Regions from separate parts of the Homo sapiens genome. Here region 2 is linked to region 1. Evidence: fine-mapped expression QTL. A gene starts in region 1. The other region holds a variant in brackets. All regions are shown on one strand. Distances are between the middles of the regions.

Region 1 (5,367 bases):
GCTCTGTATCCGAGGACGTGTTAGTGGATTTTATTTGCCAAACTACTAAATATCTCTTTAGGGTTGTCTCAATTTTTATTTTCTCAAAAGCCTCAGGACCTGCCTTCGGAGACTTCCAGATCATTACCATTAGATCCCTGGTGATTTTCTCCAGTTCTAAGCAAGGCCCTTCGGCTTTCTAGGAATCTGTGTGACTAGCAAGTTGTTAGCACCTTCAAAGCACATTCACACCCGCCCACCCCCTCATTTGAGGGGCCCAGCAATCCAGGGCAGGTAGAGCTCTGTCTTCCAGCAGAGGAACAGCAGCGACTGCCTGGGTTAACGAGACAGATGCGGGCAGAGCCAGCAGCTCTTCGGACCAAGAGGCTTCTCCTTTCACAGAGAAGGAAACTGAGACCCAGAGACCCCTTCATTCCCTCAGCCAGTTGCTGGCCTCCTGGAGGGCAAGTGTGTCCGATCAACAGTCCCAACCTACCAAGGGAAATCAGGCTGACTTTAAGTTGACAACCCTTGTATGCCTATGGCATCAATCAAAACATACATCTTTGTGCCAGCCGCCCCCACTAAGCACAGCACAGGAGAAATCACCCAATGGCCGGGCCGGCACCTCCAACTCCCACCCCACCAATTCCATCACTCAGGCTGAGGAAGGGAAAAGCAAAATTTAAGCGTGTAACCCAGGAAGGGAGGGAGACTGACAGACTGGGTCACCCCAACAATTACAGAGGAATAACATGAATTTGCAAGGATTTCCCAAGGAGCTGGCTCTAGAAGCCTTTTCAGCCTGGGTACCGGAGGCTTGCAGAGAATGATTCATGGGAAAACACTGCTTCCTGTTTTTGCTTTGGGGCTTAGATCCATGGTGGCAGATCTGGCTGGCCCAGAGGCCCGGGTGTTTTTCCGGGCTCTGCCATACTGGAAGACCAGGGTATTAACAGCGAGTTAGCTGAGTGCCATTCCATTCAGCAAGGGCTCAAAGTGCACCAGGCACCGCTGGGCTTGAGGGACGCCAGCAGCTCATTCATTCCATCTGCCCAGCCAGCAGGCGAAGCGAGAGTGGTCATCATCTCATCATCTGTTTTACAGACGAGAAAACTGGGGCTCAGAGATGCCCAAATCGCCAATCTTCTCAAGGTCACGCAGCGGCCGACCGGGTCAGTCTGATCCCTCAAATCCGGAGCCCTTGCTTTTAAGGAATGAACTAATCTAATCTCCCATCCACGTACTAACCAGGCCTGACCGTGCTTAGCTTCCAAGATCAGAGGCGATCCGGCGCTTTCAGGGTGCTATGACCGTAGACAGAAACGAACTAAGACTCAGTTTCCTCATCAAGAAGGAGCAGACAAGGACCTGGGTGAATCTGAGGCCGGCTTCCGGGGCTCCGAGGTGTGGCTCCCGGTAGAGGGGGCGTGGCGCCCTCACCCTCCCCGGGCCAATGGGCAGGAGGTGAGAAGTGGAGAGGAAGGCGAATTATCCCATCCCAAGGTGGCTCCGGAGCAGAACCGCGCCCGGGGTAGGGGGTACTCACGTCGATGTTCCTTAGGATGACGCACTTTCCATTGGTGTACAGAAAATTGTTGCCCTTAGGGTCGCCGCCGATGATCTTGGAGACGCCCCTCTCCACCTGCGGGAGGCTGGCGAACACCTTCTCTGCGGAGACACAAATGCGGCGGGGCATGTCAGGGCAGGGCGGGGACGGCGGGGACAGAAGGGAGAAGGAGCCCCGGACCGGTCTCGGCCGGTCACCTGTTGACTGCGCCGGGAGGGCGGCCTCCACTTTCCACGAGCGCCAGGAACCGCGCGACTTCCTGGTCCGCGCCCCGGGCCAGGCCCTTGGGGGCAGCGGGGCTCCTCCGGCTCGGCCCACGGCGCCAACTTGGGGGCGCACCCCCCGTCGGGGGTCCCGCCCTGCACCACCGAGGGCGGCCCCGCCACGCCTCCGGCCGGCGCCCGCACCCCTCCCCCGCGCCGAGGACTCCCCCGCCACCCGCACGGCGCCTAGGGGCCGGGGACCGGGGCCGGGGCAGCGCGGCGGCCGCTCGGGGGCCCCGCGCCGCGGCACTTACTGATCTCGTACGGCATCCTCGCCCACTTGTTACCGCGCCGCGCTCGCCGAGAGCCTCCGGGGCCGGCCCGCGCTGCGAATTACACCTCGCCGAGGCCGAGCCCGGGGACTGGAGCCGGAAGGCGGCACCGGGCGTGCCGGGAGTGGAGTGGGCGGTCCGAGGCCGGGGCTCAGAGGCCAGCTCGCGCCTGCCCTGCGCGCTGTGGTTGCGGACGCCCCGAACCCGGAAGCGCGGTCCCGCGCGCGGCTCGCCCCCAGCTTTGACCATATATAGTCAAGCGCTCGGCTCGGCGGCTGCGGTCCCGGCGAGCCTGCGCGGACCTGGCGCTCCCCTCCCCCGCCGGCCCCGGCCCCGCCTCCGCCTTGCTCGCCCCGCCCCGGAAGTGACGTATAGCACGCCCCGCGGGCCCTTGAAAAGGCGGCGCAGACAAGCAGCCGCGTCAGAATGCTTCTGGGAGTCGGGGGGTGGGTGCCTTTCTGTTGCTAGCTTGTAGGAGAAGCTGGGCTGTAGGAAGTTTATTTGCGGGGGGGTCTTAAAGACGCTGAAAGTACTGGCGGGCTTTGGTGGGGGTCTGGAAAAACCTCTCTGTACCTGTGACCGCGTTGCGTGGCGGGCGCTCCCCGGCCTCTCCTTTTTGACCGGTCCCGGGCGTTGCCCAGCCGCCAGTCCTCCTGCTCGGGTTTTGTAAGCAGGAGAGGGATGCTTTTTACGTCTTCTTAAAGTACGGTTAAGTGCCCTTGCTTGAAGTAGTTGCTGGCAACAAGAACGTAGGGGTTACTCTTTGTTGGGCCTGAACTCGTGCTTTTTCTCTCAAAAGTTGAGCTTTTGAAAGGCAAAAAAGGCGTGGGGGATGGGGGAGCTGTCGGTCTTAAGGAAGTTAAAGGTTATTTCCTAAACAAAACAAGTCTCACTCCTAAAACCAGGGTAGTGGCTCAGTTGTGGCGGGAGAGCAGGGGCTGTAAAGTGTCCAAGTTTCTAGTCTCATCTTTCAGTAGGATGGGTACAAGCTTTCCCCTTGGGGCTCTGGGGGCTGGGAGGGTTGTAAAAGTGGGAGAAAGCAAAGTATTTGGCGGGGTGCGGGCGGGTAGCTGAATGTTGTTGTAAGTGGAAGAGGAATGCTGTTGGCGTCTTTCTCTAAGCACGGTTAAGTGCTTTTTCTTGAAGTAGTTACTGGCAACAAGAACGTAAGGGTTACTCTTTGTTAGGCCTGAACTCGTGCTTTTTCTCAAAAGTTTAGCTTTTGAAAGGCAAAAGTGGGGGTGGGGGCGCTGCTGCTTTTAAGGAAGTTAAAGGTTATTTCCTAAGAAAGCAAAACAAGCCCCACTTGTAAAACCCGGGTAGTGGCTCAGCTGGAGAGCAGGCGCTGTGAAGTGTACAAGTTTCTAGTCTCATCTTTCAGTAGAATGGGTACAAGCTTTCCCTCGGGGCTCTGGGGGTGGGAGGGTTGTAAAAGTGGGAGAAAGCAAAGTACGTGGGTGGGGGGTAGCTAAATGTTGTTGTAAGCGGGAGATGGATGCTTTTGGCGTCTTTAAGCACGGTTAACTGCCCTTGAAGTAGTTGCTGGCAACAACGTAGGGGTTACTCTGCTGGGCCTGAACTTGTGCTGTTTCTCTCTCTCAAAAGTTAAGGTTTTTAAAAGGCAAAGGCGTGGGGAGAGGGGTAGGGGAGCTGCTACTTCTAAGGACGTTAAGGGTTACTTCAGAGCAAAACAAGCCCCACTTCTAAAACCAGGGCAGTGGCTCAATTGTGGAAGGGAGAGCAGGGAATGTGAAGTGTCCAAGCTTCTAGTCTCGTCTTTCAGTAGCGTGGGTACAAGTTTTCCATTGGGGCTCTGGGGGCTAGGAGGGTGGTAAAAGTGGGAGAAACCAAAGTACTTGCGGGTAGCTAAAAACTCTGAAACCCACGCTGTGAGCGGTTCCTGCTTCTCTGAAAGGTCTGTTCTGCTTAAGGTTGTATCAAGGTTAGTCTCTTGCTACCTACTTCTGTAGAGCAGTCTCTCGTGGCTCACCTGGGTTAGTGGCCATGTTGCCTGTCTCCTATTCTTCCTAACCTTGTGTGTTCTCCAGGTAGCTGAGTGATCCATCCGAAGTAAAATATTCCTCAGCTTGTCTGTAGGGGCTCCAAGTTTCATGAAGTAAAAGCTAGTCTTGAAAACGGCCCATTAGGGTCCTGGATGACAGTCTCCGGGTCACTTAGACTCCGTTGTCCGCCTCCCCTCATCTGTATCATCTTTGCCTTGGGTACTGGCTTCGGAGGGTGTTTTCCTGAAACTCTTACCTGAGATCTACTTGGCTGACTCCTGTGTCCTTCAGAAGTACTTAATTGCTCAAATGTTAGTTGATGAGTGTCACCGGTCTCATTTTAAATTGCAACTTCAACCCCTTGCAAACACTGCTTCTCATTCCCGCGTTCCCTAACTTTAACTCTCAGGAATAACCCTGACACCTGGAAGATGCTCCTAGGGATGACCCCACTCCCCACCCACAACTGTTAATCAGGAAATAACGGATATGAAAGTAGCTCTGCGAACTGAGGAGCCGTGGAGAATGTACAAAACAGATTCCTAAAGTAAGATACGCAGGCCCGGCTTGTAGGCCGCTGCATCTGCTTTGATAACTTAGAACTCATCAAATCACCTTGAGACCCTTAAAACAAATGGTATAATTGCATTCACAGGTAGTGCATTCGTGTAACAAGATTAAGAAAACGAAGGACCAACTTCAAGCTCTTGCAAGCTGGTAACCTTTACACTCGTGCATAAAGCCTTGCTGGAGTTGACACTGAAAACTAAACAGTCGAACTTGAGTAAAACATATCCAAACTCCCAGCTGCTGGGCTCTACAGCTTATTTTTAGCTTGAAAGTTACATGTTGGAGCTGCAGAGGCTTTATGGTGGTGGTGGGGGAGCTGTTTGTTCGTAGTCACTTGAGTCTATATGAACGTGGCAGGAAATCTGAAGGATGTGAAAGGAAAATGGGAAACACCAGGGTGTTCCAGGATTTTCCCTGTGGGGCGCGAGCTCAGTTTGGTGTTGTCAGCTGTGGGAGCTTTAACACTTGAACCGTCTTTACTGTGGGTCTAGCCTATTCGTTGGGCTCCCCTAGTCACCACTCATGCCTTCGTGTATCCTGTTGTGTTGGGCCCCCACTGAATTAAATAGGGATGGCACCATGTTCGAGAAGCCGAGGCGACCCAGAGCCAATGAACACATATGGTGTATGGAGGGGACTTGAATACAGAGTGGTCCAGAGCAGCCAGCTGGGACAGAACTGCGCTTCAAAAAGCAGTTGATACAGATCAG
Region 2 (5,367 bases), 26 kb after region 1:
GGGTGGGCTCTGGGACACCAGGATAAAAGGATCTGATGGGAATGCTGGACCATGGACTGGGGATAGGGGGAGCTGTCCCAGGAAGTGACTCTGGTCGGGTTCTTCGGTATACTTCAATCAATGCCTGTCTCTCACAACTGACCTTTTTGTTATTCCTTCCCCCACTAGCATAACCGTACATAACTTCCCTTGAACCACCATTTACTAAGAGCTATTACATCAGGAAACAGGCAATTCTGTGCATAGTGAACCTAAAGATAGCCACAGAGGCAATAACTCCTCCTGACCTCTTGATGGTAAAAGGGAGTCTTCCAGGCTGAGCCCCTGGAGGCGCTGCTCTGTGACCCGTGTCTGTCACTGTGCCCCTTCTGAGCCACAGCCTGCTACCTATGCTGATTGTGTGGCCCTGCCATCCCTTATTCGAAATTCAAGCTTGGCTCACTTTCTAACAGGTTGTCTGTGCCCCCTTTCCCAGAAGGGTTGACTTGCAAAGATTCACATCTTTGTCACGGGCACAGGACCTCCCTGGGGGAGGGGTGGGGGTTGTCAGACTGTCAAGCTCCCAAGCAGATTTCCTTGTCTTGATGTGCTGCCTCGTGGCCACCAGGTGGGGACGCCAAAGGACTCCCCTCAGCCAGTGTCCAGGATGGAAAGAAAGCCCCTAGCGCTCTGGGGACTCAAGGATGGATCTTAAGGATGGCACTGGGGAGTCTATCTTATTGTCCTTTAGAAAGAGGGGCTTGTATCCTGAGACACAGGCAGTGACTCTCACTTGGGAGTGACATCACTGAGCCACGAGAGACTGGCATCTTGGCCCATGTGAGCCAGAGCTCCACACTCGGGTGTCTGTTTCCTGGGTTAGGGGCTCTGCTGAGTAGAAATGCATTTCCTTGGTCTTGTTGCATGCATATCTCAATATTAAGTGACCTCTGGCACAGGTGTTTCACATTTTTATTCAACATCTTAATTCAGAAACATAGGAGCCAGGATTGTAAAATCTCACTTGGCAAAGGCAGAAGTAAACATGCAGTAAAGGGGTGGTGACTCCAAGTGATCATATTCGAGTTTGTGTGGCCATCCATAAGGTAGTTGCCACACTTGAACTTGGTTATGAATCTTTTAGTGTCTATAGGGCTAGATCACAAAATCTCGACTTCGACTGACTGTCCACACCACTGGCTTCCAGTAGTGATCTGAATCAAGTATAAATAGTTACTGACACCTCTGATATATAAAAGATTAAGCATGCTGCACAGTGGCCCACACCTAGGTTTCACTTCCCAGGCTCTTGCAAGGATCTGGGTCTTTCTATCCAGAGTTCCCCTACTGTTGGTCTAAATCTCTGAAGACTTGAGTTCAACTTGCCAGGCAGCTGGTTTTGCTTGGAAGACTATCTTTACATCAGATCCAAGCATGGGAGGTTTGGCTTGGAAATTCAATCAAGATTCCATGGGTGAGACCTCCTTAGAAGCCTGAGGGGCAAGGTGTTGGGAATCCTTGCCAAGAATTTGGCAAACAGCTGTAGGCTGATATCTCACTGACTGCCTGAGGGCACCATAAAAGGATCCTCAGGTGTGAGGACAAGTGAGCAGTTGACCAAGTCAAGGGGGCAACAAGAAACTATCCAGATAGTCTCTGCAGAATGTTTGGGAATGCCTCTGGCCACTTGCCGTTCTATCTAAACATACTAGCTTTCTCTCCCTTAACTGAAAATCCAAAGTGTCAGTGACCGACCACTCGCATAATGGTGGCTATACTAGTCAGGGTTTCCTAGAGGAACAGAATAGGATGGATACACACATATAAAGGGGAGTTTATTAACTTACACAACCATAAGATCCCCAATAGGCTGTCTGCAAGCTTGAGGAGCAGAGCCAGTCCAAGTCTCAACTGAAGAACTTAGTCCGATGTTTGAGAGGTTAGGAAGCATCCAGCATGGGACAAAGATGTAGGCTGGGGGTCTAGGTCAGTCTCACCGTTTCATTTTTCCTGCCTGCTTTATATTTGCTGGCAGCTGATTAGATTGTGCCCAACAGATGAGAAGGGTTGGGTCTGGTTTTCGCAGCCCACTGACTCAAATTTTTATCTGGCAACACCCTCACAGATATACTCAGGAACAATAGTTTGCCTCCTTCAAGTTGACACTTCAGTGTTAACCACCACAATGGTTAATGCTGTGGCAAAGTGACAATATCTATGCGTACCATAAATTATCCCACCCAGTAGCAAATTCTGCAGGGCAGCTCCTCTGGAGACTATTTTTCCCCCCTCCCGGAAGGCTGTAAACTGAGAGAACTTTGAATGAACAAATTCCCAACATAGCAGCCCGCATCATTTCAGCATGTCTTTTAACGCTGATTGCTTTTCACCTTCTGGCAGTTTCCCAGGCTCTGGGGTTTAGTAGGCACATCCCCTTCACATCAGGATCATCTCCATGCTCATACCCAGTCTTTGAACCAGTTCCTGGCAATCAGCTTTCAGCTCAGGGCTTTGAGCTGCAGATGCTCCGTCGTCC[T/C]CTCTCTCCTGAGCAGGTGAAGAATCTTGACTTTGAGTTGGTGGTTCCACTTCTTCAGGTGGTTCATGACTGAACTGCTTGGGCAGAATAGGCCAGATCACCTTAGGTTGTACAGATTGTATTGGTCGAGGCTGATTGATCTTCCTCACCGACTCATTTCACACAGATGAGTCTCAGTAAAGGAGTCAACCGCCGGAATGTGACAGCATATCCTCACAGCTCCCCAGGACACTTTCTTGGTGTTGATTCTGCCTCTCAAACTTAACTCACTGTGATGTCCAAACTTTGAAAAGGGAGCCTACTGATACTCATGGAGGGACAGGCATGCAGGGGACCCGTGTGCAGCGTCAGAAGGTGTGAGGCTGCCTTGTCAGTGTGGTCCCCATCTTTGTGCTAGTAGCTGCTTCTCGCCAAGAGCCAAGGTTCTTCCAGGTTGGTAGGGGAGGAGGCAGTGCTGAATCTGACTTCCCAGCTTGGACCACGTTACATCCACTGACACTCATGGCTCATGGTGGTTGTGTGGTTGAATTGTCTGGAAAGTATATGCACTAAATTAGGAATACAAAAGATCTACGATTTAAGAAAAGGGAAGCTGTCCCATCATAATTGAACCTGACAATTTTGCCAGTCCAGCAGGGAGCTTTGGAGCAAGATAATCCTCAATTTGAATCCCACATTAGGTGGAAATGGCTCAGCTCAATGTTGGCTTGGGGCCACCCCAAAAGGAACATGAGCTAACAGCTAGAGCCCTTAGTAGGTAAGCATGCTCACAGCCAGACAGTTCTGTGAAGGTGGTGTGTGACATGTTGTCAGATCTGCAAGTGATGGGCAGCTATGGTTTCAAATCGGGTCTGTAAGGACTGTCATTCTAAGATGTAGTTGATAGTCACTGTATCTTCTGCGAACTACATCACAGCTGGCCAACACTTGACTGGTTTAGGTGACCAAAGTCTTTTGTTCCTAAGTGGTCTGAGATCCTGGTCTGGTCAGGTTATGGCCATTGTGAAGCCTAGCCACTGGGAAGCTCCAAAAAGTGCCCTAGTGACTCACCCACATCCCATATACTTTCCTCCCTGTATCAGCAACCCCTGATCTCCAGGCAAAGGAGCTCAGAATAACCTGGTGGCACTGCTTTTGTTCCCTGGTGGAAGTGTCTAGGACTGCAGTGTCTTAGCCTGCCAGAACTAACCTTGCAGGGATGGAACATGAATGGTCTCCCTCCTGAGCATTGTGGGTTGTGAGGGAGAAATTTCTCCTTGGATCCAGACCTATACTCTTGCTACTAGATAAATAGTATAGGACATCTGTCCAAAATACTGCAACTCAAATATGCTAGTTCCAGACTGGGTTTCTTGTTAGCAAACTGCCTCGAAACTGCTGGTGAACCAAGGGTAGGCTATGGAAGAGGCCATCACAAGCCAGTCTTCTTTCCCCCTTGAGCCAGGTTGGGTCGGCTGTGGAATAGTTCATGGAGATGGTGCAGTTGAGCTCTTGGAGGTGCTGAGTCAAGACTGGAAGAGTTTGTCTAAAACGTGTAATAGATTTAAAACCTGTGAAAAGGGGAAGGAAGCAGGATCGGGCAGAGGTCAGACTAGGATGTAAAGCTTGACTGAGCCTGTCGGGGAGCTCCAGAGGCAGCATCTCATTAAGGTGGTTCCAGGTCACAGATGGGTAGGACTGCTGGTTTGGCTAGTTCATGGCTGTGGGCTGCCCTTGGAGGGACTGACTAAGGCTGGCAGACTACTCCCTACTGAGCAGCATGTTGTGTCTTGAATAGGGATTGGGTGGTGGATTTGTCTAAGGGATGGTGGCTTTATAGAGGTCTTAATTGAAGTCTGTTACAGGTCAGGACCATGGAGTTGGATGGCTGTCAATGGGCCTATTCTAGGAGCGCTCGGGTGGCCGAGTTACACCTGGCTATAAGTCATCCCGTGCACCTGACTAAATGCATCCCGTGCACCTGACTAAATGCGTCCCGTGCACCTGACTAAATGCGTCCCGTGCACCTGACTAAATGCGTCCCGTGCACCTGACTAAATGCGTCCCGTGCACCTGACTAAATGCGTCCCGTGCACCTGACTAAATGCGTCCCGTGCACCTGACTAAATGCGTCCCGTGCACCTGACTAAATGCGTCCCGTGCACCTGACTAAATGCGTCCCGTGCACCTGACTAAATGCGTCCCGTGCACCTGACTAAATGCATCCTGTGGGAGCTTCATGCCAGGCTCTGACCGACCTATGACTTGGCCTATATAGGTTTCCTGCCCATTCCCATGGGTTCCTCCCCATTCCCATGGGTTCCTCTTTATGCCTCTTCTCCAGATCTTGTTGACTTATCTTCTAATCTCCTAGGGCCTGGACAGCCAGTCTGTTTAATGCATATGATTCAGTATCTTTCCTTAAACTTCTTATAAGAGACAATCAGGTGAATTTAAATCCTCAGTGGGAAGACGTGGTCCGTTTCTTACGGTGCCCTCTGCATAGTGTTGGAGTGGTTTATATTTAGCGCTCAAAATAAGCCAAATCCATCTATAAACCCTGACTCTAACTTTTCCTTTTCTAACTTGCTTAAGAATTCCCAAGGAGGTTAGAGCTATGAGCTTTGAGAGGGGTTGTAGGTACAACAGAAGTTGGTGTGGGAATCAAACGCCTGAAAACGTCACTAATATTGTAGGCCCTGGGGTTTCTGCAGGCTTCTCCCTCATTCTTGCATAGGAGTGTTTATCCCGTGAGCACTTGTTACTTCCTAATTGCCAAGTGTGACTTATGGCAATAATAGCCCTGCAAGATCTCCCGTGAAATGCCAATCCAGATTCCTGTGGATTGGATGGGGGTAGAGATGAGAAGGGTT

The links. PIP is the estimated chance that this variant, and not a neighbour inherited with it, causes the effect. A credible set is the group of variants that fine-mapping cannot tell apart.
Region 2: its variant is the best candidate, but not a certain one, in a credible set for the expression of WDR1 in whole blood (TOPMed, PIP 0.86).

What each region holds. Positions count from the first base shown.
Region 1 is chr4:10,114,585-10,119,951 of GRCh38, forward strand. It overlaps WDR1 (WD repeat domain 1), which reads right to left and starts at 2,215. Exons shown (of 15, transcript NM_017491.5): 1 at 2,067-2,215; 2 at 1,529-1,650. The coding sequence starts at 2,082. It overlaps LOC124900666 (a long non-coding RNA gene), which reads left to right and starts at 2,505. Exons shown (of 2, transcript XR_007058030.1): 1 at 2,505-4,634; 2 at 4,743-4,893. It also overlaps the pseudogene RNA5SP155. RefSeq lists enhancers at 1,072-1,876, 1,527-1,676, 3,447-3,546, 3,627-3,716 and silencers at 1,757-1,906, 1,987-2,396, 2,407-2,526.
Region 2 is chr4:10,141,008-10,146,374 of GRCh38, forward strand. No RefSeq gene overlaps it. Among named protein-coding and RNA genes, the nearest start is that of WDR1, 27 kb to the left of the region's middle. The variant T/C (reference allele first, on the strand shown) is at 2,516.